Linked DNA regions of Homo sapiens: region 2 is linked to region 1. The links come from fine-mapping of genetic effects on gene expression. A gene starts in region 1. The other region holds a variant in brackets. All regions are shown on one strand. Distances are from middle to middle.

Region 1 (15,474 bases):
ATTCCAGAGGTCACAAGATCTGCAACTTCTCCAATTACTCCTGCATCTCTATTGCAGAACCTAAGATTGGCTTTTTGAGATATCTTTTCAGGTTTTTTGCAAGTCCAACGTGATGGCTCCTCCTGGACCCGCCCAGAAGCCACTCGGCATGCAGGAGGATGAGTCCCACACCCCTGTGATTGCACCCAGACCAATCGGCAGCAAGCACCCATTGCCTAGCCACCTCCACCCCTTCCTCCAAACTATTTTTGAAAAAATCTAGCCCCCAGATGCGAGGAGAGACTGATTTGAGTAATAACTCTTCCATGTAGCATGGCTGGCCTCACATCAATTAAACTCTTTCTTTTTTTTGAGATGGAGTCTCGCTCTATCGCCCAGGCTAGAGTGCAGTGGTGTGATCTTGGCTCACTGCAACCTCCGCCTCCCGGGTTCAAGCGATTCTCCTGCCTCAGCCTCCTGAGTAGCTGGGATTATAGGCATATGCCACCACGCCCGGCTAATTTTTGCATTTTTAGTAGAGATGGGGTTTCACCATGTTGACCAGGCTGATCTTGAACTCCTGACCTCAGGTGATCTGCCTGCCTCAGCCTCCCAAAGTGCTGGGATTACAGGCGTGAGCCACCGTGCCTGGCCCTAAACTCTTTCTTTACTGCAATGCCATGGTCTCCATGAACTGGTTTTGTTTGTGCAATGGGCAAGAAGAACTGTCAGGGAGTTATAGTGGGGGGACCCTGCTATTCAAGACCTGAAACTATACTGCTCATCGTCAGGGTTAAAATACACTGATTTGATGCTGGATCAATTTAGGAATCCTTTTTAGAAAGTAAAGGCAGGATTGCAATACAGACCTTCAACATTTTACCCATCAGTCTAAAAACTATATACAATCACCAAATATCCCATTAAAAAAATAAAACCTACATTTCTAGCCAGGTGCGGTGGCTCACGCCTGTAATCCCAGCACTTTGGGAGGCTGAGGTGGGTGGATCACCTAAGGTCGGGAGTTCGAGACCAGCCTGACCAACATGGTGAAACCCCATCTCTACTAAAAATACAAAAATTAGCCATGCGTGGTGGCCGGCACCTGTAGTCCCAGCTATATGAGAGGCTGAGCCAGGAGAATTGCTTGAACCTGGGAGGCAGAGGTTGCAGTGAGCCGAGATCGCACCACTGCATTCCAGCCTGGGCGACAGAGCGAGACTCCGTCTCAAAAAAAAACAAACAAACAAAAAACCAAAACCTAGATTTCTACAAATGTTGACTTTTATTATTTTTTTCCTTATCATACATTAAAGGACTCAGAAAATGTTCATGGGCTTCTCCCCCAAGTCTTTGCATCTGTGATATTTAGCTGTTGGTAGAAACTAAGGTGAGTCCCACCAAAGGGACGGCACCACGGTCCACCCCCCTAGACTGTGGCCCAGGACGGCGACTCCTTCCCTCCTCCGAGCTGACCCGGGTGTCTGCAGCTCAGTGGGTTTCGCGCTAACCGTGCATGACCACTGTCCAGGGCTGCACCCGCTCTTTTCTGCTCACAGGCTCCCCATCAGGAAATGTTAAAGGAGCCACCTAATAATTAGCTGCTTTTTCTAGCTGCCCACATATCACAAAGCAAGCTCAGAGAGGTGTCAAGTGTGTTCGGCTACTTTTCCATATTTATCTACCAGTTATCACTCACATAAACTGCTTTACGGATAAAGCTGGTGTACCGATATTTTCAAATCATTGTTTGCCATTATAATGTGAGAGATGTTATCTTCCTTTGTTCTTCCCTATAACCACATGTTTCTGCCTTTATTCACGGAGGAGCTACTATTTAAAAGCGAGGACAAGCAGCTTGGGGGAGGAAAATGTCCTTTGGTAAGAGGAAGAGCCCTTTGTAGTGCGAATAATTACCATAATTGCTAGTTTCCACAGTACAAGCCTATGATTCATGGTGTCCCATTGGCTATGCTGGGGACAGAAGGCTCTTCCATCCGGCCCTCATGTCTGCGGGGAGGGCACGCTAGACCCTCACAGTCTCCTGAGAAGCAGCCTCAGTTCTGCCCTTGTCACAGAGAGGCACATGTGCATTCCTACTGGTCAGGCCGAATCTGCATCTTTGGGTCTGGGAGGGGAGTTAACCTTCCGGTTCTTGTGAAAATCTTTTTTCAGCCGGGCGCGGTGGCTCACGCCTGTCATCCCAGCACTTTGGGAAGCCGAAGCAGGTGGATCATTTGAGGTCAGGAGTTCGAGACCAGCCTGGCCAACATGGTGAAACCCCGCCTCTACTTAAAATACCAAAAAATAAGCTGGGCGTGGTGGTGTGCACCTGTAATCCCAGCTACTTGGGAGGCTGAGGCACAAGAATTGCTTGAACCTGGGAGGCGGAGGTTGCAGTGAACCAAGATCGTGTCACTGCACTCCAACCTGGGTGACAGAGTGAGACCCTGTCACTATATATATATATATATATATATATACACACACACATATATATATACGTATACATATATATATATATACACACACACGTATATATGTGTGTATATGTGTACATGTGTGTGTATATGTGTATGTGTGTGTATATATATGTATACATGTGTGTATATATATGTGTGTATATATGTGTGTGTGTATGTATGTATGTATGTGTGTGTATATATATATATACATATCTCCTTTCTTCTTAACTGTAAATTGGCAGGCTGGAGAGCCCTACACCAGGCTTCTCCATGCTGGCTCTGCAGGCCAGGCCTGCCTCTCCAGCCCCCTCTGCTTTTACTAAGCTCCTGAGTACTCCACCAAGGAGCACTCCCACCCCAGCATCTCTCCCTCCAGAAGCCAAGATTCGGAAGGGGAGACACTGAGACGTTTCTCCTGCACCCTATTCCTGGAAGTGCCCGTACATGACACAAAGCTACCATGGGGAAACCACCAGGGAATAATGAAGAGAAAAATGTTAGCAAGCTCTTAGCGTTCTTGCTTCCTGTTCTAACTCTCAGTTCTATAAAGGCTTTGAGTTCCCATCTGAGAAGGAGTCAGGAACTTCATATTTACTGAGGGTTAGGGTCCCCAGCCCCCTATTCTACATGGATGCTAGACAAATCCGCAAACCCGATCCAGCAATATAAAAGAAGGATAATCCACCAGAAGGGCAAACACTAGAAAGTCAATGAAAACAGTCTCCTAATTTCAGGAATGCCAACGAGATGGGAGAGCTATCCAGGCTGGAACACTTTCACCCAACGCTGGAGTGACCACAGCAGGAAGCCACCCCTGCTGTATACATACGTTAATTATTTTTATTATCTTTAAGGCCCTAGTCAACCATCTCTTTCCCACCACCAACAGACACAAGGCCTGCACCTCAGTATTGTCTAAAGATGATTAGACAATTTGTCTAAAGATGATTTGTGGGCTGGGCTTGGTGGTTTACACTTGTAATCCCAGCACCTTGGGAAGCCGAGGTAGGTGGACTGCTTGAGCTCAGGAGTTTGAGGCCAGCCTGGGCAACAAAGTGAGACCCCATCTCTATAAAAAAAATTTTTGTTTTCAGTCTCTGTAGAGACTGTCAAAAATTGCCAGTGCTGACTATATTGCAAGTCATCACGGCAGGGTATTGGGAAAAGTTTTCAATTATCAATAATCACACCTCAGATAAATCTCATTGGCTACAATACTGCCGCTGTGCAAAGCTACAAAAAAAAATTTTTTTTTTTTTTTTTTTTTGAGAAAGAGTCTCGCATTGTTGCCCAGGCTGGAGTGCAGTGGCGCGATCTTGGCTCACTGCAGCCTCCGCCTACCAGGTTCAAGCAATTCTCCTGCCTCAGCCTCCCGAGTAGCTGGGATTACAGGCATGCGCCACCACGCCCGGCTAATTTTTGTATTTTCAGTAGAGACGGTGTTTCACCACGTTGGCCAGGCTGGTCTTGAATTCCTGACCTCAGATGATCCACCTGCCTCGGCCTTCCAACGTGCTGAGATTACAGGCACGAGCCACCGCGCCCTGCCAAAAAAATTTTAAAAATCAGCCAGGTGCGGTGGCACATGCCTGTAGCCCCAGCTACTAAAGAGGCTGAGGCAGGAAGATTACTTGAGCCAGTGAGGTTGAGGCTGTGGTGAGCTATGTTTGTGCCACTGCACTCCAGCCTGGGCAACAGAGCAAGACCCTATGTCCAAAAAAGGGAAAAATATGGTTATTTGTGGACTTGTTCCAACCCTCCTCCTCTCAGAAGTTAGGTGCCCAACAGGCAGGCCCAGGGTGGTGCTCCCTTGCATCCTCAGGAGACCCTGCCTGGAGCTGCAAACAATAAACTTCTGATAGATTCCAAAGATGGACATGGTGGATTCAGCCATTCTCCATAAGCATCAACCTGCCTGCCCCTGCACCACCATGCAAAGGCCAAGCACTGCTCTAGGCACCAGGGAGGCATGTGTTAGCATGCAGAGCTCCTGCCTGGAGAGCCATCTGTGCATGTGTGAAAAGAGGCACACACATTCATTTCTGTATCTCTGGCACCTCATGAAGAACCTGTGCAGGAAATGCCAACCACCCTGAGACAAATGTTTCCATTGGTGTTTTAAGCACCACAATACAGGACACGGTTTTCAAAAATACATGAGACTTTATCAGATGTCTTGTTTAAATCAATATGCAATGGCTCACTCTTTTTTTTCTTTTTGAGAATGAGTCTTGGTCCATCGCCCAGGCTGGAGTGCAATGGCGCGATCTCGGCTCACTGCAACCTCTGCCTCCTGGGTTCAAGCGATTCTCCCGCCTCAGCCTCCCAACTAGCTGGGATTACAGGTACCACCATCATGCCCGGCTAATTTTTGTATTTTTGTAGAGACAGGATTTCACCATGTTGGCCGGGCTGGTCTTGAACTCCTGACCTCAGGTGATCTGCCTGCCTCAGTCTCCCAAAGTGCTGGCAAGGTGTGAGCCACCATGCCTGGCCGGATCACTCTTATTTACCAGTTTAGTAACTCTAACCAGAAAGAAGATGGGGTTAAACTCTAACCAAAAAGAAGATGGGGTTAAAATGGCTTGTTCTTATGAAAACTCAGGTTCAAATGACTTGTAGGTTCTACCAGTCACAGAAAAATTCAAACCTTAGTAAACAATCCACGGAAACAGGAAAAGAAGGCATACCCTACAGCTCATTTTTGAAGCTAAAAGTGACTTTGGGCCAGGCACAGTGGCTCATACCTGTAATCCCAGCACTTTGGGAGGCTGAGGTGAGCAGATCACCTGAGGTCAGGAGTTCAAGACCACCCTGGCCAACATGGTGAAACCCGTCTCTACAAAAAATACAAAAATTAGCCGGGCATGGTGGTAGGCACCTGTAATCCCAGCTACTCAGGAGGCTGAGGCAGGAGAATTGCTTGAACCCGGGCGGTGGAGGTTGCAGTGAGCTGAGATCACGCCACTGCACTCCAGCCTGGGTGACAGAGCAAGACTCCATCTCAAAAAAAAAAAAAAATTAAAAAAAAAGGTGGGGAGGTGATGGAGGCAGAACCTATGGATTAAAAAGAACTAAAAGGGAGTATCTCTGAACCTATTCTGGTTCAGGAACTTCCGGATTAAAGAAAAAAAAAGAACTAAAAGAGTCAGACTAATTCTTACGTGCAAACAAGTTTAGGAACCAATGATGCAAACTACATAGGTAAGACATAAGCAGGCATGAAGTGGCTAGGGAACAGAATTTAAAAGTCTTAATTTTTTTTTCTTTACCAAAAGCAGTTATATTTCTGAAAAGCTGAGTTTTAAAGATGGATTTGGAAGGAAGAATGGTGCCTGACTCTTAAGTTCTATAATATTTTTCAATTAAAAGCTGGTGCTGGCTGGGCATGGTGGCTCACACTTATAATCTCAGCACTTTGGGAGGCCAAGGCGGGTGGATCACCTGAAGTCAGGAGTTCGAGACCTGCCTGGCCAGCATAGTGAAACCCCATCTCTACTAAAAAAAGAAAAAAAAATTAACCAGGCGTGGCAGCATGCGCCTGTGATCCCAGCTATACTCAGGAGGCTGCGGCAGGAGAATTGCTTGAACCCAGTAGGCAAAGGTTGCAGTGAGCCGAGACTGCGCCATTGCACTCCAGCCTGGGCAACAGAGCAAAAACTCCATCTCGAAAAAAGAAAAAACGAACAAGGCAGAGAGGTCTCTCATCTTGAGAACAGACCCATGGTAAGATTTATTTTACTTTAACAAGAAGTCTAAGGCTGAGAGTGGTGGCTCACACTTGTAATCCTAGCACTTTGGGAGGCCCAGGCAGGCGCATCACTTGAGGTCAGGAGTTTGAAACCAGCCTGGCCAACAGGTGAAACCCTGTCTCTACTAAAAATACAAAAAAATTAGCCGGGCATGGTGGTGGGCCCCTGTAGTCCCAGCTACTCGGAAGGCTGAGGCACGAGAATCGCTTGAGCCCGGGAGGCAGAGGTTGCAGTGAGCTGAGATCACGCCACTGTACTCCCACCTGGGCGACAGAGGGAGACTCCAACTCAAAAAAAAAAAAAAAAAAAAAAAAAAGAAGTGTATATGACAATAGAGAAATCCTTATTTGGGTGCTGTTGTTTCTTTCCAGCACAAGTTCACAAAATAAGCTAGGGAAAATCCCCCCCGCCCGGGAAATGTCTTGGTTGATTTCCCGTTTGCTCTCTTAGAGCATTTTCAGACACCTGCTCTATCTTTCTGCCCAAAGATAGAGATGCTGGGTGGGTTTCTATGTTCTAGGGATAGAAGGCAAGGACTTGGTCACTGTAACACAGAACTGAGCTAGCCACTTGGGTGTCTGGTTGGCAAGTTGCCCTGGTAACTCCTTGTTTAAATTGTAAACTAGATAGACCTTCAAAGCTACAATTATGAAAGTGTACTAACAGCCACAGCCCAACAGAAATGAAAATGTACAAGCAAGTACATTTGCAATTTTTAATTAGCTTTTTTTTTTTTGAGATGAAGTCTCCCTCTGTCGCCAGGCTGGAGTGCAGTGGCGCGATCTCGACTCACAGCAACCTCCGTCTCCCGGGTTCAAGCGATTTTCCTGCCTCATCCTCCCGAGTAGCTGGGTCTACAGGCGCGCGCCACTATGCCCAGCTAATTTCTGTATTTTTAGCAGAGACGTTTCACCATGTTGGGCAGGATGGTCTCACCTCTTGATTTCGTGATCCGCTTGCCTCGGCCTCCCAAAGTGCTGGGATTACAAGCGTGAGCCACGGAGCCCGTCCAATTTTTAATTAACACTTTTTTAATACTTCTTTAATTATTGTTTAAACCAAGTTTTCCAGCCTCCTTCATTAGCCTGTTTGGTATTTGCATGCTTTGCTTGAATATTTTATCTCCAGCCCATTCCACACCGTTAGTCAACATTTTCATCTGACAGACGGAATCAAGGCCTAGGCCTCCCTTAAACAAAACATCCCTCCCAAAAGTACCACTTATAAAAATTGCTTGCCACAGACATTCTTGCTACAGACATTCTTTGCGGATCTTTGGCCAGTAACATGCATATACCCACACATAGTTTGCAAATAACAACTATTCAACGTGAAGTGCTACAAAAGTACGATGATAAAGTGCTCGCCGCTTGAAGAAAAGCACTAATAATTGTAACAAAGCCAAAACACACACACACACAACGAAAAAAAACGCACGGTAAGCCAAGAGCTCTTTAAAAATAAAAAATAATCATTCTCGGGAACAAATAAGGTAGGTACAAACTTGCCAGGTGACTCTGTTACGCTTAAAGGTTCTGGCTGTCAACAGTCCCCGGCGTGGTGGCGGCGGCACCCTCAGTCCCATCCGACTGAGGGCGTTGATGCGGGAGCCTCGGGGCTGCGGGACTGTTCGGGATAGGACGCGAGAGCACCTGGACAAAGGCCTGAGGCGGCTGTGCAGAACAGGGAGTGGCCCCGAGGCCCGGGTTTGTCTTCCCTTCCGGTCACCCCTCCCGGCCCAATGTCCCCAGGCCCCTGCTTACCCCGCTGGGCGCCGTATCCCTGCGCTCGGCGCCGCGCTCCGGAGCGAGTTGACAGCCGCGGCAGGCGAAGGCGCGGCAGAGAGGGGGGAGAAAGGTCTTCTTCCCCGCCCGCAAGACCACCATGGCCCCACGCCCCCTGGCTCCCGCGGCGCACGGCAGCATTGCGACGGCGCGAGGGGCCGCTTTACGGCAGGGTCGCGAAGCCCGAGGAAGCGCGGCGGCGCGGCCGACCGTGCGCTTTCCCAGCGGTGCGACGGGGTGAGGGGGCGGCGGGCGGCGCGGGCTGACCCGGGCGGCCGCTCCTTGGTCGCGGTCACTCCAGGCTGCCTCGCTGCGCCGCTGGCGGTGGGCGTGGCGCTGCCGGCGGCTAGGCGCGGACGCCGGAGGAGGTGTCCCCGGGTTTAGGGGTGTTCGGCCAGGGGCGGGGCTGCCGGGCCCGGGCGACTGCCGGAGCTGCGGAAGTCGTGGAAGCGTCGGCGACGCATCGCGCGATGGCGCGGGCGGGACAGGTGAGCGAAGCGCGGCTTGTAGCCTTTTCCCTCTCTCGGGGGGACGAGTGGGGCACCACCTCCGCGCGGGGCTCCCCGCTGGGCCACCCCTTCGCCAGCGCCCAGCCCCGTGCGGCCTGTCGGATCAGGCAGGGCAGAGTCGGTCTCGGCGCTGTCCCCGCCCCTGGGGTCGGAAGCGACCGGGGCTGGCCGGGCCTGGTCTCTGGTGTCTCCGGCCGGGCCTCGGTTCCCCTCCTCCCCCGGCTTCCCCCGGCCGGGCCGAGCTCCCCTCGCGCGCCCATTGTGAGGTCACGTCCTGCAGGCGCGCCCTGGCACCCGGGCCAAGACGCCCGGAGCGGCTGCTGCAGCCAGTAGCGGCCCCTTCACCGGCTGCCCCGCTCAGACCTAGTCGGGAGGGGTGCGAGGCATGCAGCTGGGGGCCCAGCTCCGGTGCCGCACCCCGTAAAGGGCTGATCTTCCACCTCGCCACCTCAGCCACGGGACGCCAAGACCGCATCCAATTCAGACTTCTTTTGGGTAAAGGGCCAAGAGGGAAGGGCGAGGCGGGGAGGAAGCAGCTCGGGCCGCCTTCCCTCCGTGGCCTCCAGGACATCCGCCGGGGATAGATTATGCGTTTCCATTGGTTACCCACCTTGAGCGAGCCGTTTGATAGAAACCAAGAGCTTGAAACGTGCATTAGGCCATTGTGGACTCCCAGTGGGAGGCGAGTGAATGAATTATTCATAGTTACCACGTTTTCGCGGGTTGTTTTTTTTTGAGAGAGTGGAGCATGTTGGGGGCTGAGGAGGTGTTGGGCCTCGAAAGCCCAAGGTGGTGCCCTTCAGCGCTGTCCCGGTCGCTCTTCTTTACCTGTGGGGTTTTAATCTCTTCAGGGAGACTTCTGTGAGGGAAGATGTGTGAGGAGCTAAAAGGGTGGGGAGGGGAAGTGCACAAAGGGATGGAGAGAAACGAAGAAGCGGGGACCTTGGGGATGTCTGAGAGCCACTGGTTTTTGTTCTGGTTCTTTCTTTTGCTTAGAGTTTCTGGAAACTAGGCATAGCTGTGTGGCGGGGCGGGGTACTGTTAGTGTTCGGAAGGTTACAAGAGCTACTGTTTCACCTTTCATAAAGGTGCCCTGCTGGTTCCAAATAGTTTGTGTCGCGTACGGTGACTCACACCTTAATCCCAGCACTTTGGGAGGCGGAGGCGGGCGGATCGTCTGAGACCAGCCTGGGCAATATAGTGAGACCTGTCTCTACTAAAAATAACATTAGCTGGGCGTAGTGGTGTACGACTGTAGACCCAGCTACTGGGGAGGCTGAGGTGGGATGACTGCTCAGAAGTATACCTTTTTAAAATGAGAATTTTAGAATGACTTAATATACCATTAGTGTTCTGCAGAAGCCTTGTGCTGTAGTAAGTTATCATTCTTGTCGTCTTTTAGTGCTTGTGAAACTGAACACAACAAAAGTATGGATATGGGAAACCAACATCCTTCTATTAGTAGGCTTCAGGAAATCCAAAAGGAAGTAAAAAGTGTAGAACAGCAAGTTATCGGCTTCAGTGGTCTGTCAGATGACAAGAATTACAAGAAACTGGAGAGGATTCTAACAAAACAGCTTTTTGAAATAGACTCTGTAGATACTGAAGGAAAAGGAGATATTCAGCAAGCTAGGAAGCGGGCAGCACAGGAGACAGAACGTCTTCTCAAAGAGTTGGAGCAGAATGCAAACCACCCACACCGGATTGAAATACAGAACATTTTTGAGGAAGCCCAGTCCCTCGTGAGAGAGAAAATTGTGCCATTTTATAATGGAGGCAACTGCGTAACTGATGAGTTTGAAGAAGGCATCCAAGATATCATTCTGAGGCTGACACATGTTAAAACTGGAGGAAAAATCTCCTTGCGGAAAGCAAGGTATCACACTTTAACCAAAATCTGTGCGGTGCAAGAGATAATCGAAGACTGCATGAAAAAGCAGCCTTCCCTGCCGCTTTCCGAGGATGCACATCCTTCCGTTGCCAAAATCAACTTCGTGATGTGTGAGGTGAACAAGGCCCGAGGGGTCCTGATTGCACTTCTGATGGGTGTGAACAACAATGAGACCTGCAGGCACTTATCCTGTGTGCTCTCGGGGCTGATCGCTGACCTGGATGCTCTAGATGTGTGCGGCCGGACAGAAATCAGAAATTATCGGAGGGAGGTAGTAGAAGATATCAACAAATTATTGAAATATCTGGATTTGGAAGAGGAAGCAGACACAACTAAAGCATTTGACCTGAGACAGAATCATTCCATTTTAAAAATAGAAAAGGTCCTCAAGAGAATGAGAGAAATAAAAAATGAACTTCTCCAAGCACAAAACCCTTCTGAATTGTACCTGAGCTCCAAAACAGAATTGCAGGGTTTAATTGGACAGTTGGATGAGGTAAGTCTTGAAAAAAACCCCTGCATCCGGGAAGCCAGGAGAAGAGCAGTGATCGAGGTGCAAACTCTGATCACATATATTGACTTGAAGGAGGCCCTTGAGAAAAGAAAGCTGTTTGCTTGTGAGGAGCACCCATCCCATAAAGCCGTCTGGAACGTCCTTGGAAACTTGTCTGAGATCCAGGGAGAAGTTCTTTCATTTGATGGAAATCGAACCGATAAGAACTACATCCGGCTGGAAGAGCTGCTCACCAAGCAGCTGCTAGCCCTGGATGCTGTTGATCCGCAGGGAGAAGAGAAGTGTAAGGCTGCCAGGAAACAAGCTGTGAGGCTTGCGCAGAATATTCTCAGCTATCTCGACCTGAAATCTGATGAATGGGAGTACTGAAATACCAGAGATCTCACTTTTGATACTGTTTTGCACTTCATATGTGCTTCTATGTATAGAGAGCTTTCAGTTCATTGATTTATACGTGCATATTTCAGTCTCAGTATTTATGATTGAAGCAAATTCTATTCAGTATCTGCTGCTTTTGATGTTGCAAGACAAATATCATTACAGCACGTTAACTTTTCCATTCGGATCATTATCTGTATGATGTGGTGTGGTTTGTTTGGTTTGTCCTTTTTTTTGCGTTTTTAATCAGAAAACAAAATAGAGGCAGCTTTTGTAGATTTTAAATGGGTTGTGCAAGCATTAAAATGCAGGTCTTTCAGAATCTAGAACTAGGCATAACCTTACATAATACTAGGAAAATTATGAGAAAGGGGAAATTTTTGGTTAAATAAGAGTAAGGTTCAAACACAAGCAGTACATGTTCTGTTTCATTATGCTCGATAGAAGGCTTTTTTTTCACTTATAAGGCCTGATTGGTCCTACCCAGCTTAACGGGGTGGGGTTTTTTTGTTTGTTCAGACAGTCTGTTCTTTTGTAAACATTTTTAGTTGGAAAAACAGCATCTGCATTTTCCCCATCCTCTACGTTTTAGAGAGGAATCTTGTTTTTGTGTGCAACATAAGAAAATTATGAAAACTAATAGCCAAAAAACCTTTGAGATTGCATTAAAGAGAAGGGATAAAGGACCAGCAATAATACCTTGTAAGTTGCTTTTGTTTGTAAAATCTGAGCTTATAGTTTTCCTTAGTGAGTAAATTCATAAGGATGGGAACATTTAAATTAAGTTAATGGGCCTTTAAAAAAAAAAAAAGGAAACACTCATACCTGTAGTTGGAGGATGAATACTGGAGACGGGTTACCAATGTCAGGTTATACTAAAACTAAATCAGAAAGTCTGAATGTAGCACATAATGGTTCTCTTCTGTTGTCCAAGGCTGTAAAATGGACAGCCTTGTCACACCTCCCCGGTGCTGTTTTACAACGTGAGGGTAGACGCTGTCAGTAACCCAGAGGGACCAGGCCTTCCTAGGTTTTCTAGGCAGTCAGCTGTTAACCACTCACTTAGTAAATGTCATAACTACACCTGCTCCAGGACCAATCAGTGAAACCTGCTCGGAATTAAAGGCTTCCTCTGGGTGCCTGCTGAACAACTGAGCTCATGTCATGGGCATGTGGTGGTTTCTCTGTTGCCTGAAAGAGCCATTAAAGTCAGTCGTGCGTGAAGCATCTCTCTTCTAAAGGATGTGTATTTCCATAAATGCTTTCTGAGGATCCGGTACAAAATGATTTCCCAAAGTTCTGAAGTGCCTTGAGAACATGTGGGTCCGAGTGTTATAACAGACTCCTCCCCCGGGTCACCTTTTGCCTGGTCATCCTGTTAGAGTACATCTTTGGAAATCCAGGGTAATATTCTCTTTCAGAGATGCTCATTGTGTAACTCTGTGTAGGGAGATAGTCACTTTAAACAGCTCAAAGTAGCTAGCTAAAGGAGTAGCCTTAAATACCTAAAAGATGACAGAAGCATAGCCCTTAACAAATCTTCAGCTTGTCTCTCAGTATTTCCCAATCATGAAAATCCCTTGCTATGTCTTTCCTACTAGAAATGTTCTAGAATCGCTGGACGGTGGGGTCAGAGGGCAGTCGGTATTTAGGCCGTGAGCTTCCCATACTACTGCAGGTCCAACTCCTGGCAACCGCGGGCTCAAGGCAGGTCATTGGAATCCACGTTTTGGCCACAGTAGTTGTAGGATTGCTTTTCTGTATCATAATTTTAGAATGCTCTTAAAATCTTGAGGAAGAGTTTTTATTTTTTATTTATTTTTGAGATGGAGTCTCTGTTGCCCAGGCTGCAGTGCAGTGGTGCCATCTCAGCTCACTGCAACCTCCACCTCCCAGGTTCAAGCGATTCTCCTGCCTCAGCCACCTGAGTAGCTGGGAGTACAGGCATGTGGCACCATGCCTGGCTAATTTTTGTATTTTTAATAGAGTTGAGATTTCACCATGATGGTCAGGCTGGTCTCGAACTCCTGACCTCGTGATCCGCCCGCCTCGGCCCCCCAAAGTGCTGGGATTAACGGGTGTGAGCCACGGCGCCCAGCCCAGGAAGAGTTTTTAAATTAGAGCTCTGTTTAATTATACCACTGGGAAATCATGGTTACGCTTCAGGCATATTCTTCCCCAGAGTACTACTTACATTTTAAATTTCATTTTGTAAAGTTAAATGTCAGCATTCCCTTTAAAAGTGTCCATTGTTCTTTGAAAGTAGACGTTTCAGTCATTCTTTTCAAACAAGTGTTTGTGTACCTTTTGCCAAGCTGTGGGCATCGTGTGTGAGTACAGGGTGCTCAGCTCTTCCACCGTCATTTTGAATTGTTCACATGGGTAATTGGTCATGGAAATGATCAGATTGACCTTGATTGACTGTCAGGCATGGCTTTGTTTCTGGTTTCAATCTGTTCTCGTTCCTTGTACCGGATTATTCTACTCCTGCAATGAACCCTGTTGACACCGGATTTAGCTCTTGTCGGCCTTCGTGGGGAGCTGTTTGTGTTAATATGAGCTACTGCATGTAATTCTTAAACTGGGCTTGTCACATTGTATTGTATTTTTGTGATCTGTAATGAAAAGAATCTGTACTGCAAGTAAAACCTACTCCCCAAAAATGTGTGGCTTTGGGTCTGCATTAAACGCTGTAGTCCATGTTCATGCCAAAAATGGCTGGGAACGTTTGCTTTATTTACATTCAGTCAGCGTTGCTTTCAGATCACACTTTATCCACACAGGAAAGCCAGTCAGCCTATAATGAAGTAGTTATTAAAATAAATGTAATGAATATGTCTACAAAGTATAGTTTAGTGGTTTATTTTGCTAAAATGCACATATATTTGATATAATTTAGTTTGAGAAGTTCAGCTAGTTTTTCTCCTTTGTTTGACTTTGTCAATTTCTATCTGGTTTTTAAGGGTCTGAGCTTAGCTTGTGCATGCAAGGTTTTGGGTTTTTTTATTTTTTTTTTGAGCACAGCTTTTCACCTTTTAATTTGTTGGGTATTTTTCTCTTAATAAGAGAAATATTGGCCATCGATTTTTACATATAATACAAGTGTGTTTTTCCAGTACATTGGTTCCTGTCCCCTCTCTGTGAACTGTTTGAGTATTGGAACAGTATGTCTTCAATAATTCAATGTTACTTTGAGATACATGTGTTAATATACCCTTAGTTATTCTTGAAATAAAACCAGTCTCTTACGCTTGCAGTGGAGAAAGGCTGTGAGTCTGAGGTGTGTGTTCTCTATATATTATCACCTTCATGAACTGTCTGACCTGGGTGCGGAGCCCTTTTTTTTTTTTTTTTTGAGACGGAGTCTGGCTCTGTCACCCAGGCTGGAGTGCAATAGCGCGATCTCGGCTCACTGCAACCTCCGCCTCCCAGGTTCAAGCAATTCTCCTGCCTCAACCTCCCGAGTAGCTGGGATTACAGGTGCCTGCCACAACGCCTGGCTAATTTTTTGTATTTTTAGTAGAGACAGGGTTTCACCATGTTGGCCAGGATGGTCTCGAACTCCTGACCTCAGGTGATCCACCCGCCTCAGCCTCCCAAAGTGTTGGGACACAGGTGTGAGCCACCGTGCCCAGCTGAGGAGTCCTTCCTTAATGGAGCCCACAGCAGGCAGGCCTGGGGGCAGGTGGCCTCCTTGGCTGCAGTTGGTGGCCATGCTGTAAGGAGGTGAGGGTGGTTGTGTGTGGGCCAGGACCCAGGCCCAGGTGACCAGGTCACTGTGCTCTTGTTGAGACAGCCTAGGAAGTATGTGTGTGATGGGGGTGGGGGCCTCATGCTCTGCTCCCTCAGGAGGATGCCTGGGTCTCAAATAAGAATTGACTTTATTTTTAGAAAGAAGAACCTCTGAGACAGTTCTTGAAAGATCCACTCTCCAGAGGAGAGTTGTGATAGTGTGCTATGAAACCGTCTTCACTGCTTTGTGACGGAGGTGTGGGAGTCTTTCTGTCTATTCGGCCCTTCCCGGCTGTGTGAGGTGTTCTGACTCCGGCCTCCGGCCCTCTCCCAGCCCTAAGTCTAGTGAAGCCCGTGTGCTTGGACTGCAGACGTGCCTGGCTCACTTCGGGCAGTTGTTTGTCTATTTTAAGTCCGCTATGTGACAGCAATAAGTTTTCCTATTTTTAGCCCTTTCCTATTGTATTTTT
Region 2 (15,474 bases), 350 kb after region 1:
CTGGGATTACAGGCATGTGCCACCACGCCCAGCTAATTTTTTTTTTTTGAGGCAGAGTCTCGCTCTGCCACCCAGGCTGGAATGCAGTGGCGTGATCTCAGCTCACTGAAGTCTCCCTCCACCTCCCGGGTTCAAGCGATTCTCATGCCTCAGGCTTCCAAGTAGCTGGGATTACAGGCATGCACCACCAAGCTAGGCTAATTTTTTTTTTTTTGTATTTTTAGTAGAGACGGGGTTTCACCATGTTGCCCCGACTGGTCTTAAACTCCTGAGCTCAGGCAATCCACCCACCTCGGCCTCCCAAAGTGTTTGGATTACAGGCATGAGCCACCGGGCCCAGCCTGAGATTTCCCATTCTTGAAGGATGGAAGTTTCTAGATTGGCAGGGGCAAGCTGCTGCTCAGCCTAGTAAAGGAAAAAGATGAACTGTTCTCTCTAAAGGTTTGTCCGGTGGGTTTTGTTTTTTCGGTCTGTAAGATTATCTTCCAAAAAAATGGGATTTTTTTTCCCTCCCGCTTCAATCCCTACACCACAGTTTTTGCAAGGAGCTCTAATACTGTGGGAAATAACGGGACCAGTGGTGGCATCTTCTATCTACCCTCTTCTGTTGTTCTATTTACCTGTCTATAACATTTGCTGTTCTAACCATTCTTAGATATATTCCAAGGCACAAAGAACTGCAAATTATAAAGGTCATTTCAGAGTTGATTTAATAATTTTGACACAAATCTGAAACTCAGGGATATAAGATAGACAAAAATACTACGACTCGAAGTTGTCAGCAAATAAGGTAATAGAACTATGAAAGAAGTAAAAATGTTAGATTTCGGTCAGGCGAGGATCACACCTATAGTCCCAGCACTTTGGGAGTCCGAGGTGGGAGGATTCCTCCAGCCCAGCCTGGGTAACATAGCAAGAACCCCATTTCTTTTCTTTTCTTTTCTTTTCTTTTTCTTTTGGACACAGGGACTCCTCCTGTGGCCCAGGCTGAAGTGCAGTGGTCACAACTCACTGTGGCCTTGACACTCAACCTCCTAGGCTCAAGGGATTCCCCCACATCCCTCCTGCCCCACCTCAGCCTCCCAAGTAGCTGGGACTACAGGCATGCATCACCACACTGGGCTAAGTTTATTTTTTGCAGAGACGGGGTCTCTCTATGTTGCTCAGGCTGGTCTCAGACTCCTGGGCTCAATCTATCCTCCTGCCTCAGGCTCCCAATGTGCTGAAGTTACAGGCCTGAGCCACTGCACCTGGCCTGCCTCTACATATTAAAAAAAAAGTTTATAATGCCATTCCTAATGAAAACCTAACACTGACATACCAAAACAAGTCTGTACTTTCCAACTCTGTCCACTGCATGGCCTAGAAGCCTCAAGCCCTCGGGTATGCCAAGCACAGCCGCCTGCAGTGGCTGGTTTCCGAAGACCCTTCCCGCTGCACGGTCTTGGGGGAAAGTCACAAAGGAGCTGGGGCTGCTGCGTTGCCCAGAAGCCGGGGCGGTGCCCGGAGACTCAGGAGGGCAGGTTAGAGGGAGCCAGAATTCACTCCAAGGCTCTGCTGGTCACATTCAGGGACAATGTCAAAACAGGTGACTGTGGCTCAATGAAACACATGGAAAAATAGCAAAAATTCCCGCCTCTAGAGACACAAAGGAGAGGCTGAGTCTAGAAAGGGACAACAGCCAGAGCTGGAGACCGGAGTCTCCCAGCACACCCTTCCAGCTGCTACTGCGGGGTGGTCAGGGCTTGGGCAAGGATGACACCCCCCCAGTCTGTGGCCTGCCTCGGTGGGACCAAATTACACAAACCAGGAAAGCAGACCAAGTTCCCCAAGCACAGCACCTGGGAGGCCCCTCACCCAGCCCCCCACCTCTATCGGAGCCTGCCTGAGCCTCCCGGTTTCCCTTCTAAAGCCCTCCCACCTGCCCGCCTGCTGGCCTCTGCCACACCCAAGGGAGGGGCCCAGGCCGCTGCTCCACAGGCCCTGAATTAAGAGGCCCGTGGTCCTCATTTGGGTGGTCTTCACAATTTCCACACGGAAAGACAGAAAAAAATAGGACCTGCACAAAAGCCGTCTTCAGTCAGCAGGGAAATGCAAACGAAGCCCAAAGGGACATCGCCCAGGCCCCTGGCCATGGTTAGAAGAGACATCACCCAGGCCCCCGTCCGTGGTCAGAAGGGACATCACCCAGGGCCCCGGACCTAGTTAGAAGGGACATCACCCAGGGCCCCGGACCTAGTTAGAAGGGACGTCACCCAGGGCCCCGGCCATGGTTAGAAGGGACGTCACCCAGGGCCCCGGCCATGGTTAGAAGGGAAAGAGATGCCATCCACCAGGACTCTCGCTGCTGGGAGTGTCCAGGGACACCACATAGGTAACGCTGAATTTAAGTAAAACCACGACGGAAACAGGACTGTGGTAACCCCTCCACCCTGTGTGCTCCATCCCATCGTCCAGCTGTACACCCTTAATAAATACAATTTATATCCATCAATTACACCGCAATAAAGCTGGGGAACCATTTTTTAAAAACTACCTCTTGCATGTAACGATTGATAAGAACTTGCAAAGCTGGGAAGGCACCGATTTAAAACTCGCGCCAACGCGGCTGCGCGTTGCCTGGAGGCCACGGCCTCGCCCGGCCCCTGCGCGGGCACTGGACGTCCCGCAGGCTGCATCTGGCGCCCCGATGAGCGCTCCTGGACCCCCGCGGCCTCGCTTCCAGCCACGACCTCCAGGGCACGGCGCCACCCCGACGGCCCAGCCAAGGCCTCCCCGCCGAGGCCGACGCCCTCGCCACGCCCTGGTGCCCCGAGGAGTCGCCGGCTCCCGCGCGCAGAGCTCCCCAAGCCTGGGCGGGCGCCTGGATAGCGCGACCGGCACGGACCCGCACGGGGTCTTGGCAGAGACGCGCGGGACTTGGCGGGGGCCACTCCCTCCTGGCGGGCGGGGCAGGAAACGCGCCGCGAGGCTGCGGGGGGCGAGGGGAGGGAAGGGGCGAAGGAACCTCAGCCTCCCCACCCCAGCCCCGCCCCCGGGCCCAGCTCCGACCCCGATGCGTCCCTGAGGCCTGGGTCCCAGGGGCTCTCCGCGCCCGGTCGCCCCTTCCCGGAGTCGCCACGTCCAGATCTTGTCACCGGCCCGGGACCACCTCGTGGGCCGGGCGGGGTGAAGTGCCGTTAGGAAGGACGGTCCCATGGGATGGGGGGCCGGGGAACAGGAGACGCACGCCAGGTCGGGAGAAGAGGACGGACTGCGCAGAGCAGAGGCCGCAGAGGGTCGGCCCGGGAGCGCGGGGGTCCCTCCACACGCTCCCCGTCCCCGCTTCCCACGCGGCTCCCTTCGGACCCCAGGGCAGGTGGGGACGAAGAAGTGAGTCGGGTCCCCGCTGCGGGCCGTCGTCCCCTCCAGCCAGGCCATCTCCAGGGCTTCAGGTTGGGGAAGGGGCTCCTGTGGCCTCCTGACCTCGGGCCTCGCAAGTGTCTGCCCTGGGGTAGGCACTGACTTGGTGTGGATTGATTGATGAATTGACTGGAAGAAGGAAGGCACCCTAGGAACTGCAGGCTCTTCCACTTAGGGCCTGGGTTTCAACTCAGTCCCCACTCACCACCTTTTCCATGTGTCTTCAAAGCCCCTCTTCACTCGGGGGTGACCCTGTCTGTCCAGAGGGCTTGCAGCCTTCAGGGACGCAGTTTCCAGTTTCTGGGCGCCCATATGGACTCTCCCCTGAAGGCCACCTCCCCTTCCCCTGGGAGCAGGGGGCCTGCAGTTTCTCCCACTGCTCACCTTGAACTTTCTTCCTCCGCCTGTCCGGGAAAGGCCCATCCGGCTCATCCCAAAGGCCCAGGGCATCTTGGTGAAAAACCCCAAGGGCGACAAACAAAAGACCTCTACGATCTGGTTTAGAGTAGACAAAGCTCCTCTTTTTCCCTCCAGCACATAGCTCATTTAAGAACAAACTTAGACACTGGATACTGTAGTTGGGTGAAGTGGCTCAGGCCTGTAATCCCAGCACTTGGGGAAGCCAAGGAGGGAGGATTGTTTGAACCCAGGAGTTTGAGACCAGCCTGGAGAACATAGTGAGACCCTACCTCTACACACACACACACACACACACACACACACACACACACACACACACACACAATCAGCTCCTGCTGGTGCACACCTGTAGTCCCAGTTACTAGGGAGGCTGAGACAGGAGGATCGCTTAAGCCCAGGAGGTTGGGGCTCTTGTGAGCCATAATTGTGCCACTGCACTCTAGCCTGGGTGAGAAAGCAAGGTCCCTGTCTCAAAAAAAAAAAAAAAGAAAAAAACTGGATACTTTGGCCCTCGTTGAGGATACGGACATATATATACACACATATGTACACTCACGCATCTATGGTGTAAAGTGGCAGCCATGACTGTCTCTTCACCTGACTTGTCTAGAAATGCTCAGCTCCTGAGGCAGTGACCCTAGAGGGACAGAGACTGCATCTGGGAGAAATGTGGAAGGGTCAGCTGCGTCCAGTGGGCTCCCTGAGACACTGCAACTGCTTTGTCCGGGTCGTGTCTACTAAGTGGAACTCAAGCAAGAGTCTCCGTCTCTGATGCTGGAGTGGAATGTCCACGGGGGCAGGTAATGAAGAAGGGAAATTCAGGAGCAGCTGCAGCCCCAGCAAGACAGACAGAAATCCATGTCAGTTCCTGATTCCTTTTGCTTAAAACACCTCCTTTACAATTTGCTTTAGTGTAAATGTTAGTGACAAACTCCTTTGTGCTGCAAGTGTCTTTATTTGGCCCTTATTTTTTATTTATTTATTTATTAGAGTCTGGCCCTGTCACCTAGGCTGGAGTGCAGTGGTGCCATCTCGGCTCACTGTAGCCTCCAGCTCCCGGGTTCAAGTGATTCTCCTGCTTCAGCCTCCCGAGTAGCTGGGATTACAGGCACGCGCCACCATACCTGGCTAATTTTTGTATTTTTAGTAGAGGTGGGGATTCACCAGGTTGGCAAGGCTGGTCTTGAACTCCCGACCTCAAGTGATCCACCCACCTCAGCCTCCCAAAGTGCTGGGATTATAAGCGTGAGCCAGTGTGCCCGGCCACATTCATTTTTAAAAATTTGCAGCCATTTGCTTTTCAAATGTTTTGCTCTGGTCCAGTTTCTGTCCTTCTGGGGGCCTCAAATTCCACCTATGTGAGACTCCCCTACCTTTGTCTCTTCTCCCTCTTCTCTATTTATTACTTTTTTGGTCTGTTCTGAATAATGTATCTTATATCTCTCAGTTCATTGATATTTCTCTTCACCTGTGTTTAATCTACAGTTCATTTATCAATTAAGCATAGCAGTTTTAAAGCTGTTGTGTCTTATTAAACCAGTATCTTGGGTCTCTATGGGTCTGTTGTTATCTGTTTGGTTTTGTTGTTGCTTGGATTTTTTTTTTTTTTAAATCTTATTCAGTATGGACCTGTTTATCTTTTATTATATACTAGATAAATCCTCTGTAGAAATAACTTGAAACTTGGGTTATTCTCTTCCTCCAGAAGAATTTCAATGGTTTCATCCAGATGCCTGGAAGCACTAACAATAAAAGAGCACCTTAATCTAATTTCAGGGCTTGAGATTTTCCTGAAAAATCTCCCTAAAAGTGGGTTTCAGTCTCTCTGAAGGCTGATTTACTTAGTTTACCTTCACTTCCAGGATGCAACTTTTGAGATCCCAGCCCACAGCAGCAGATGTTTTACCTGGATTCCTAATCTTGGTGAGCTGTGGACTCTGTATTGATTATTTGTTGCTATATAATGAACCCAAGGCTTAGCAGTCTTAAATTTAAAAGATTTATTATTTCTTATGAATCTGAGTGTTGGCTGGGCTTAGCTGGATGGTTCTTCTGGTTTACATGGTTTTGGCTTAGGCCACACATGCCCTACATTCAGCTAGGAGCCCAGCTGGGGATGGAATATCCATGCGTTCACTCACACAGCTGCTGCCTCATCAGGGATGGCTGGATTAGCTTGGGGCTAGGAAACTCTCTCTTTCTCTTTGCATCCTCTCTTGTCATCCAGGAGTCTAGCTTTGAGCTTATTTATGTGGTGGATGAGTTGCAAGAGGACAAAAGAGGAGACTGTCAGTCCTTTTAAAGGTTTGGCTTGGAGCTGACACAATATCGCATTCTATTATTCAAAGGAAGTCAACAGCCAGGTCCGATTCTAAGGGACGGGAAATAGACTCACCTCCTTATGGGAGCTGCAGCTTTTGTGTGCAGGGGGAATAGCTGGTGGTCATTTCTGCAGACTGTCTACCACAAACCTCAACGTTTACACCTGTAAGCCTTTGGAGCTTTCAAAAGTGCAGCGCAGGCCAGTCGCAGTGGCTCACACCTATAATCCCAGCATTTTGGGAGGCTGAGGCTGGAGAATCACTTGAGGCCAGGAGTTCGAGACCAGCTTGGCTAAGACAGCAAGACTCCCACCTTTACAAAAACTAAAAAAAAAAAAAAAAATTACCCAGGCACGGTAGTGAGCACCTGTAGTCCCATCTACTCAGGAGGCTGAGGTGGGAGGACCGCCTGAGCCCAGGAGCTTGAGGCTTCAGCGAGCTGTGATTGCACCTTTGCACTGCAACCTGGGTGAAGGCCTCCCCTCTCCTGCATGGTGGTGTCACCTTACACCTCCAGTGACGACCTTCTTCAGTGCCAGAAGGGGTGTGTGAGGGGAAAAAAGCTGATTTTCTCACCTCTCCCTGTAGTCCTGCCTTCCCAAGTGGCCCTGGAGGCTCCAGGCCTGCTGCTGTCGGAGAGGGGAGGGGGTGGGGGGTGGAGACACATCCACGCCTCAATAGTGAATCTTTGTCCCAAAGCTGTCCCCTGCCCTGCTGTTCTCTGACAGGGCATTGGGCTGTCAGGGAAAAGGCTGGGGATTCCCATGGGACCGGCAGTGTCCCGGGCTCCCTTGCTGGCCTGGGTCTCGGCCTCTCAGTATGTCAGACCTCGACTGGGGAAAATGCACCAACTCCCTGCGTGAGCTATTCCTCCACAGCCCGCCTCCTCCCACACCCACCCCTGGACCCACCTGTGCTCACGGGACCCAGGCCCACCTCCCCTAGCCCCCGAACCCCGTCCCGTTTCCCTGAAGTCACAGATCCTGATCTTTCTCCATGTGAGCCCACTGGACTCAGCTGACCCTTCCACATTTCTCCCAGATGCACTCTGTCCCTCTAGGGTCACTGCCTCAGAAGCTGAGCATTTCTAGACAAGTCAGGTGAAGGGACTGTCATGGCTGCCACTTTACCCCATAGATGTGTGAGTGTACATATGTGTGTATATATATGTCTGTATCCTTTGCATGCAGTCCCCCCACATTGCCTACAGTCCCCTCTGGAGTTGGGACCGGCTTAAC[G/A]AATTGATTCTGGAAGTTATGCTCAGAGGCTAGGCCCAGAACCGACTCCTCCAACCCTTCCGGTAGCTTTGTAAGTCCCGGTTACATCTGGTAAATCGGCCCTGCTTAAATTCCCTGCAGGGGTTCTGCCTCCTGCACCCCGACTGCCACAGCATTGGCTTCCAGAAAGAAGCGGCCTCAGCACCAGGCAGCAGGCTGGGGCCGGGCCAGCACCTGCAGCTACAGACCTCCAGGTTGAACAAGATCAATTCACCGCTCATCACAGGGAGGGAGAGCACCCACCACAGGGAGCCACAGGGTGTCTCAGTAAAAAGGTGTTAGAAAGGGCTTAGATTTGGTCAAAATGACAGTGAGATATCATCTCACCCCAGTTAAAATGGCTTCTATTCAAAAGACAGGCAATAACGAATGCTGGCGAGGATGGGGAGAAAAGGGAATCCTCGTACACCGTGGGTGGGAACGTAAATTAGTACAGCCACTATGGAGAACAGTTCGGAGGTTCCCCAAAAAACTAAAAATGGAGCTACCATATGATACAGCAGTCCCACGGCTGGGTATATACCCAAAAGCAAGGAGTCAGTGTATCAAAGAGATGTCTGCACGCCCACGTTTACTGCAGCACTGTTCACAATAGCCAAGATTTGGAGGCAACCTAAGCGTCCATCAGCAGATGAATGGATCAAGAAAATGTGGTGCATGTACACAATGGAGCACGATTCAGGCACAGAAAAGAATGAGATCCTGTCATTTGCAACAACATGAGGGAACCGCAGGCACCTTGGGGGGCCCACAAACAAAGGATAAATGCTGAGGTGACGGGCACCCTACTTACCTGATATTATTATACAGTGTATGCCCGTATCAAAAGATCCCATATGCCCCATAAATACATACACCTACTATGTACCCACAAAAATTAAAAAAATAAAGGGCTTCGCTTTGGGCTTGCATGAAGTGAAGGAAGCTCGAGGAAACAGGGATTGCACTGGATTAGATGCTTAGGAAGCAGGAGGTTACATGATTGACTATCATAATATATCTTTTTTTATTTTTATTTTTTTGAGACGGAGTTTCACTCTTGTCGCCCAGGCTGGAGTGCAATGGTGTGATCTCAGCTCACTGCAACCTCTGCCCCCTGGGTTCAAGAGATTCTCCTGCCTCAGCCTCCTGAGTAGCTGGGATTACAGGCATGCACCACCACATCTGGCTAATTTTTGTATTTTTAGTAGAAATGGCGGGGTATCACCACATTGGCCAGGCTGGTCTCAAACTCCTGACCTCAGACGATCTGCCCGTCTCGGCCTCCCAAAGTGCTGGGATTACAAGTGTGAGCCACTGCACCCGGCCTATCATAATAAATCTTATCTGGAAGGAAGGCAGACTAGAGAGAAGCTGAAGTTGTCATTGGTAAAGAAGCAGTCATCACTCCTGTTGGCCAAGGTTCGATGATTTGACGTGGTTTGGACAGTGTTGGTATTTCCATCTATGTTTCGACATGACTGCAGAATGCTCTTATTTTATCTTCATCCGTCATAGTCACAGAGTGGCCATGTCTGATGTTGACGTTCTGTGAAATTATTTATGTTCAGCAGGAGAACACCGTGGCCTAAATGTAGATGCCAGGCCAGCTCCCAGATGTCAGCGGCAGCAAGAAGCTATCTCTGCAGGCTGGGAGGCTGGTGAGCCCTGCACTGCCACAGGAAAACATGTGACCAAACTCTTGTCTTCAGCGGCTTTGACGGTAGACCATGTAGCGAATGCAGTTGTCAAAATGCACTGATAGACAGCGTCTCCCCCTCCCCACTCTGCACTGTCTCCTCTCCTACAACCCAAACTGATGTCCACACAGGGAGGTCTTTATGACCAGTTGATTGAGGGGGGAAAATCTCATCCTGGCTTAGAGATGGTCCAGAAGTAGGTGGCTACAGCACTCCAGTCCCACTCAGGGTGGCCCTAAAGAAGAGTGGTGGCCAGGTGCAGTGGCGCATGCCTGTAATCCCAGCACTTTGTGAGGCCGAGGCAGGCAGATCACCTGAGGTCAGGAGTTCGAAACCAGCCTGGCCAACAAGGTGAAACCCCGTCTCTACTAAAAATACAAAAATTAGCTAGGCATAGTGGCATGTGCCTATAGTCCCAACTACTCGGGAGGCTGAGGCAGGAGAATCACTTGAACCCGGGAGGCAGAGGTTGCAGTGAGCTGAGACTGCACCACTGTACTCCAGCCTGGGCAACAGAGCGAGACTCTGTCTCAAAAAAAAAAAAAAAAAAAAAAAGAACAGTGGTAAAGGAGAGTCCTCTCAGTTGTCATGTCATTACTTCATGTGCCGCATTTGTTTGTTATACTTTGCCTGGACTGGAAGATGGCCAGAAGTATGGCTCTATACTGGCTTATGGACTAGTATAGAGGCTAATGGTTTGGCTAGATCATCAGAGACTTGGAAGAAATCAGGTTGGGAGATTGGTATTGAGGTGGTCTGGGAAAGGACGGACCTCTCTGGATAGGCAGACTTTGAGGGTACCTTGTCACATGTGAATGCTCATCCAAAAGCATCTTCTAGAGGGGGCTGTCAATAATCAGGTGGGCAAGACAGTCTTTTCTGTGCATTGCAGTCAGCCTCTTTCCCCAGCCATCAGAATGGTTGCTCAATGGGCCTGTGTACAGAGTGACCAAGGAGGCAGGGAAGAGGCTGTGCATGGCCTCAGCATGGACTTTGCCTCACAAGTCCGACCTGGTTATCTTCACTGTTGAATATTTAACCAATAACAGAGACCCTGATATATGGCATCATTTCCTGGGAGAATAATTAGCCACTTGGTGGAAACTTGATTACATTAGATCCCTTCCATCACGGAAGGAAAAGCAATTTGTCCTCACTGGAATTTATTCTGGATATAGATTTGCTGTCTCTACGTGTAATGCTTTTGCCAGCACCACCATCCACAGAATTATAGAATGCCCTGTGGACCTTCATCATATCCCATAAAACATTTCTTTGATCAAGGAATTGATTTCATTGCAAAAGAGGTGAAGCATTAGGCTCATGGCCATGGAATTCAATGATCCTGCTTTTTGTTCAATCACCCAAGAGCAGCTGGCCTGATAGAATGGTTGGATGGGCTACCAAAGACTTATCTTAGCACCAGTTGGGAGATACCACCCTGAATGGATAGGCCCCCATCTTACGGTTTTGATATAATCTTTATTCAGTGATTAATATATGGTGGTGTTTTTCCCACAGCCAGAATATAGGAGTTTGGGAGTTAAGGGGTGATAGAGGGGAATTGGTTTGTTTCACTATTATACTTAGTGACTCAGTACGTTGTTTGAGGCACCTCCTGGTACTCCCATTCCAACAGTAAAAGGTTATCACAAACAACGCCAACAAAAAAATGGCAGAACCCTACTGAAAGTTCAGATCTTTCATGAATGAACATTTGGGTCATACTACTAGATGAAGAACCCCAACCAACCAGGGCCTGGCTGAGGGCAAAGAAAACATGGAATGAAAGAAGAAAAATCTAAAAATCAAATACTAGCAAACAATTCAACGGCCCATTCAAAGGATCATACATCATGACCAAGTGGGATTATTCCTGAAATGCAAGAATGGTTCGACATAAGAAAATCAACCAATATAATGCCCCACATTACCTGAATGAAGGGAAAAGAAACATGATCATCTCAATTGATGCAGAAAAATGCATTTGAAAAAAAATCATACCCTTTCATGATAAAAACATTTAACAAGATAGGACTAGAATGCAACTACCTCAACATAATGGAGTCCATATACGAAAAGTCCATAGTTAACAATCATACTCAATGGTGAAAGACAAAGTTTTTCTTCTAAGCTTAGGATCAGGACAAAGATCCTCAGTCATTCTTGCCACTTGTGTTCAACATATATTGAAAATAATAACCACAGCAATTAGTCAAGAAAAAGAAATAAAAAGTGTCCACATCAGAAAGGAAGGAGTAAAATTATCTCTGTTCACAGATGACATGATCTTATATGTACAAAACCCTAAAGACGCTACCAAAAAATCCTGTTAGAACTAATAAATCCAGAAAAGTTGCAGAATACAAAAATCAACACACAAAAATCAGATTTTTTTTTTTTTTGAGATGGAGTCTCGCTCTGTCACCCAGGCTGGAGTGCAGTGGGGCAATCTCAGCTCACTGCAACCTCTGTCTCCTGGGTTCAAGCAATTCTCCTGCCTCAGCCTCTGGAGTAGCTGGGATTACAGGCGTCCACCACCACACCTGGCTAATTTTTGTATTTTTAGTAGAGATGGGGTTTCACCATGTTGGCCAGCCTGGTCTCAAACTCCTGACCTCAGGTGATCCACCCACCTCGGCCTCCCAAAGTGCTGGGATTACAGGCGTGAGCCACCGTGCCCAGCTGATCAGTTGCATTTCTATACACTAACAATGAACAACCTGAAAAGGAAATTAAGAAAACAATTCTATTTACAATAGCATTGAATATAATAAAATACCTAAGAATAAACTTAACCAAGAGGCAAAAGACTTGTACACTGGAAATTATGAAACATTGCTGAAAGAAACTAAGGAAGACACAAATAAATGAAAGACATCTCATGTTCATGGATTGAAATGCTTAATATTGTTAAGATGTCAATACTACCCAAAGCAATCTACAGATTCAAGGCAATTCTTATCAAAGAGCCCAATGGCAGTTTTTGCAGAAATAGAAAATCCATCCTAGAATTCATATGGACTCTCAAGGGACCTCGAGTAGCCAAAGTAACCTTGAAAAAGAACAATGTGGCCGGGTGCGGTGGCTCACACCTGTAATCCCAGCACTTTGGGAGGCTGAAGCGGGCGGATCACCTGAAGTCAGGAGTTCAAGACCAGCCTGGCCAACATGGCGAAACCCCATCTGTACTAAAAAATACAAAAATTAGCTGGGCGTGGTGGCGGATGCCTGTAATCCCAGCTACTCGGGAGACCGAGGCAGGGAGAATTGCTTGAACCCGGGAGGCAGAGGTTGCAGTGAGCCGAGCTCGTGCCATTGCACTCCAGCCTGGACGACAGAGCCAGGCTCCATCTCAAAAAAAAAAAAAAAGATTAAGATGGTAAGTTTTATGTTATGTGTGCTTATACTACACAATTTAATAATCAACTATGGGCCGGGCACGGTGGCTCACGCCTGTAATTCCAGCACTTTGGGAGGCTGAGGAGGGTGGAACACCAGGTCAGGAGATCGAGACCATCCTGGCTAACACAGTGAAACCCTGTCTCTACTAAAAATACAAAAAAATTAGCCGGGCATGGTGGTGGGCGCCTGTAGTCCCAGCTACTGGGGAGGCTGAGGCAGGAGAATGGCGTGAACCTGGGAGGCGGAGCTTGCAGTGAGCTGAGATGGTGCCACTGCACTCCAGCCTGGGTGACAGAACGAGATTCCGTCTCAAAAAAAAAAAAAAAAAAAAAAATCAACTATGGGCCGGGTGTGGTGGCTCATGCCTGTAATCCCAGCACTTTGGGAGGTCAAGGTAGGTAGATCACTTGAGGTCAGGAGGAGTTCAAGACCAGCCTGGCCAACATGGCAAAACCCCGTCTCTACTAAAAATACAAAAATTAGCCAGGCATGGTGACGCACGCCTGTAATCCCAGCTACTTGGGAGGCTGAGGCACCAGAATCGCTTGAACCCTGGAGGTGGAGATTGCAGGGAGTCGAGATCGCACCCTTCCAGCCTGGGTGACACAGCGAGACTCTGTCTCAAAAATAAATAAATAAATAAGTGATAAAAATCAACCATGGCCTCATGATCAGTTTCAGAGACAAGGACTGTAGCAGCCATGAGCAGTTTCTTCCTTGTTATGTGGATGTGTACACATAGAAACTATCTTCTTTCTCTCCTTTTCCCCCGTTATTTTATAGACGGGTTGTTAATGTGGTTCACAAAATTTTCAAAGCTGGCAAAAGGAGCATACATTTCACAGAAAAGGAAAACACATGTAATTTTAAACCCTCCCCATGAGTTCTCAGTATCAGCAGCAATCTGAATAATACAAATAGAAACCAAATACATTGGTCAGAAGTCTGTGGATAACTGGGAGAGGCAGAAGACTCACCCGTACTGTGGGTCATTAATGTCGCAGCCTCCTTGACTTTCATTCCTGGCCTGGCGTTCCTTGGTGGTGCTGAGCAGACAGAGCCCACAGCCAGGAGGAGAGAACAGCGGAGGGCTTGAGGTTTGCCCACCCGCAAGCTCACAAGTCAGCCTGCCCCTGCTCCACAGGTCCATCGGCTGTGAATGGGGCCTCCAGGTCCCCGAGCGCTCTGACAGGTGGTTGTATTCGATGCTGGCAAGTTCACTTTGGAGTTCTTGCAGCCTTCCTTGCCTCTGGAGGGACTGAGACAATGTGTGTGTGACATACAAAGTCTAGAAATTTGACACACAGGAAAAGCAGGACAATCCAGCATGTAGGGCTTTAATTTCATGTGTGCCTGTGTGCGTCCATGCTCACTCAGAAAGCAAGGTCACAGGAGCTGGCCATGTGGCTCTGGCCATCCCTGACATTGACTAGTCAGCCAGAAACCCACTGCACTCTAAGCTGAAAACTTGAATCTGAGTGGGAGTGTCTGAGTTCCTCCAGGGAATCTAAGGGCAGAAACGGCTATTTGGGAATGTTTTCTTGGATCGAGGCCTGATATCCAGAAGGACTGGGATCCAAGGACACAAAACCTCTCCAGAGGCCCTCCTCAGCACAAGCAGGTGGAGAGTCAGAAGGGCAGGACTGTTGGGGTGGGGGCTAAGGGAATTCCCAGCTTGCAGTCATGGGGGCCCAGCTCTCTGCTGTCGTGGTGGTGGGAACAGGAGGCTGTTTCTTCTCCCTGGGCTTTCTCTGCACAGCCCAATCCAGACAGTGAACAAACTTGTGTTTCTCCTCTGCTCCAGCAGGAGGAGGGGGCAGCTCTGGACAACGACAGCTGAGACCAGGAAGATGCTCCCCACCCATCACTGGCCCCTCCCCACATTTGATATGCCCCCTTAGAGAGATGAATAAGGGCTTTGCCAGGAGGGACCCCAGAAGACAGAGGTCAGGAGGGGAGTGAGTCAGCCGGGTTTCCAGCTTCAAAAGTAAGCATCCCAACCCCCAACCTGTCCTAGGAGGGAGAGGAAGAGATAAAACCCAGGGTACAGTCCCCGCCTAGCCCTCTTCGGAGGTGAACTTGCCATTAGGTTCTAAAATGTATTTTTTTCATGTTAAGGTAAAACTTGTTTTTCTAGTAAAACATCACATACAATATAAATAGAAATGACCAGAGCCTTCTCTAACCATCACTATATAAATAACATTCCGTTAACAAAATCAACTAGTTCAGATCACAGGCATAGTTGTGAGCTTTCTTCTTTATTTTTTTTAAGAAGGATGTTCAGATGGTTAAGTTGGGTTCCTAAATTTGAAAAATATGTTGCAGCTGGGGAGGTAAAATCATTAACTTGTGCAAATGACAAACAACTCATATCAAAGATACATTTTAAAAAGCATAAAACGATACTGTTAAACCAATTCGAGAAAAATTTGTTATTATGTGAAAAGTGTATGATCCAAAAGCATTCTCACATGCTTTACTTCTACGTCAGCACCTGAGTTACTGTTAAGCTATGCAGATATGCAGACAAAATATCTTTATCTGGCAAACAACAAGAAAGACACTGACTGCTGAAGCACTCTTGCAAACAACGCACCGGGAGATCGTGGTGCTTTTCCCCTCAGTTACTAACTTGTTTCCTGAAAAATAAGAAGCAAAGAGGCAGACTATGAAAACTTCAGGAATTATAGAATATTAAAAACTATAAGCTTCAGGGCCGGACAAGGTGGCTCACGCCTGTAATCCCAGCACTTTAGGAGGCTGAGGCGGGCGGATCACGAGGTCAGGAGTTTGAGACCAGCCTGACCAACATGATGAAACCCCAGCTGTACTTAAAATACAAAAATCAGCTGCGTCTGGTAGCAGGCGCCTGTAATCCCAGCTACTCGGGAGGCTGAGGCAGGAGAATCGCTTGAACCCGGGAGGCAGAGGTTGCAGTGAGCCGACACTGCGCCACTGCACTCCAGC

What was found.
Region 2: its variant is fine-mapped to the expression of BAG5 in lymphoblastoid cells (GENCORD, PIP 0.95).

Annotation. Positions count from the first base shown.
Region 1 is chr14:103,555,610-103,571,083 of GRCh38, reverse strand. BAG5 (BAG cochaperone 5) reads left to right here and starts at 8,427. Exons shown (of 2, transcript NM_001015048.3): 1 at 8,427-8,468; 2 at 9,892-14,533. The coding sequence starts at 9,920. The coding sequence ends at 11,263. COA8 (cytochrome c oxidase assembly factor 8) reads right to left here and starts at 8,124. Exons shown (of 5, transcript NM_001370595.2): 1 at 7,960-8,124. The coding sequence starts at 8,082. It also overlaps the pseudogene RNU4-68P. RefSeq lists a silencer at 8,170-8,819 and enhancers at 9,160-9,209, 9,309-9,822.
Region 2 is chr14:103,208,149-103,223,622 of GRCh38, reverse strand. It overlaps LOC124903391, which reads left to right and starts at 14,753. Exons shown (of 2, transcript XM_047432044.1): 1 at 14,753-15,474. The variant G/A (reference allele first, on the strand shown) is at 7,382.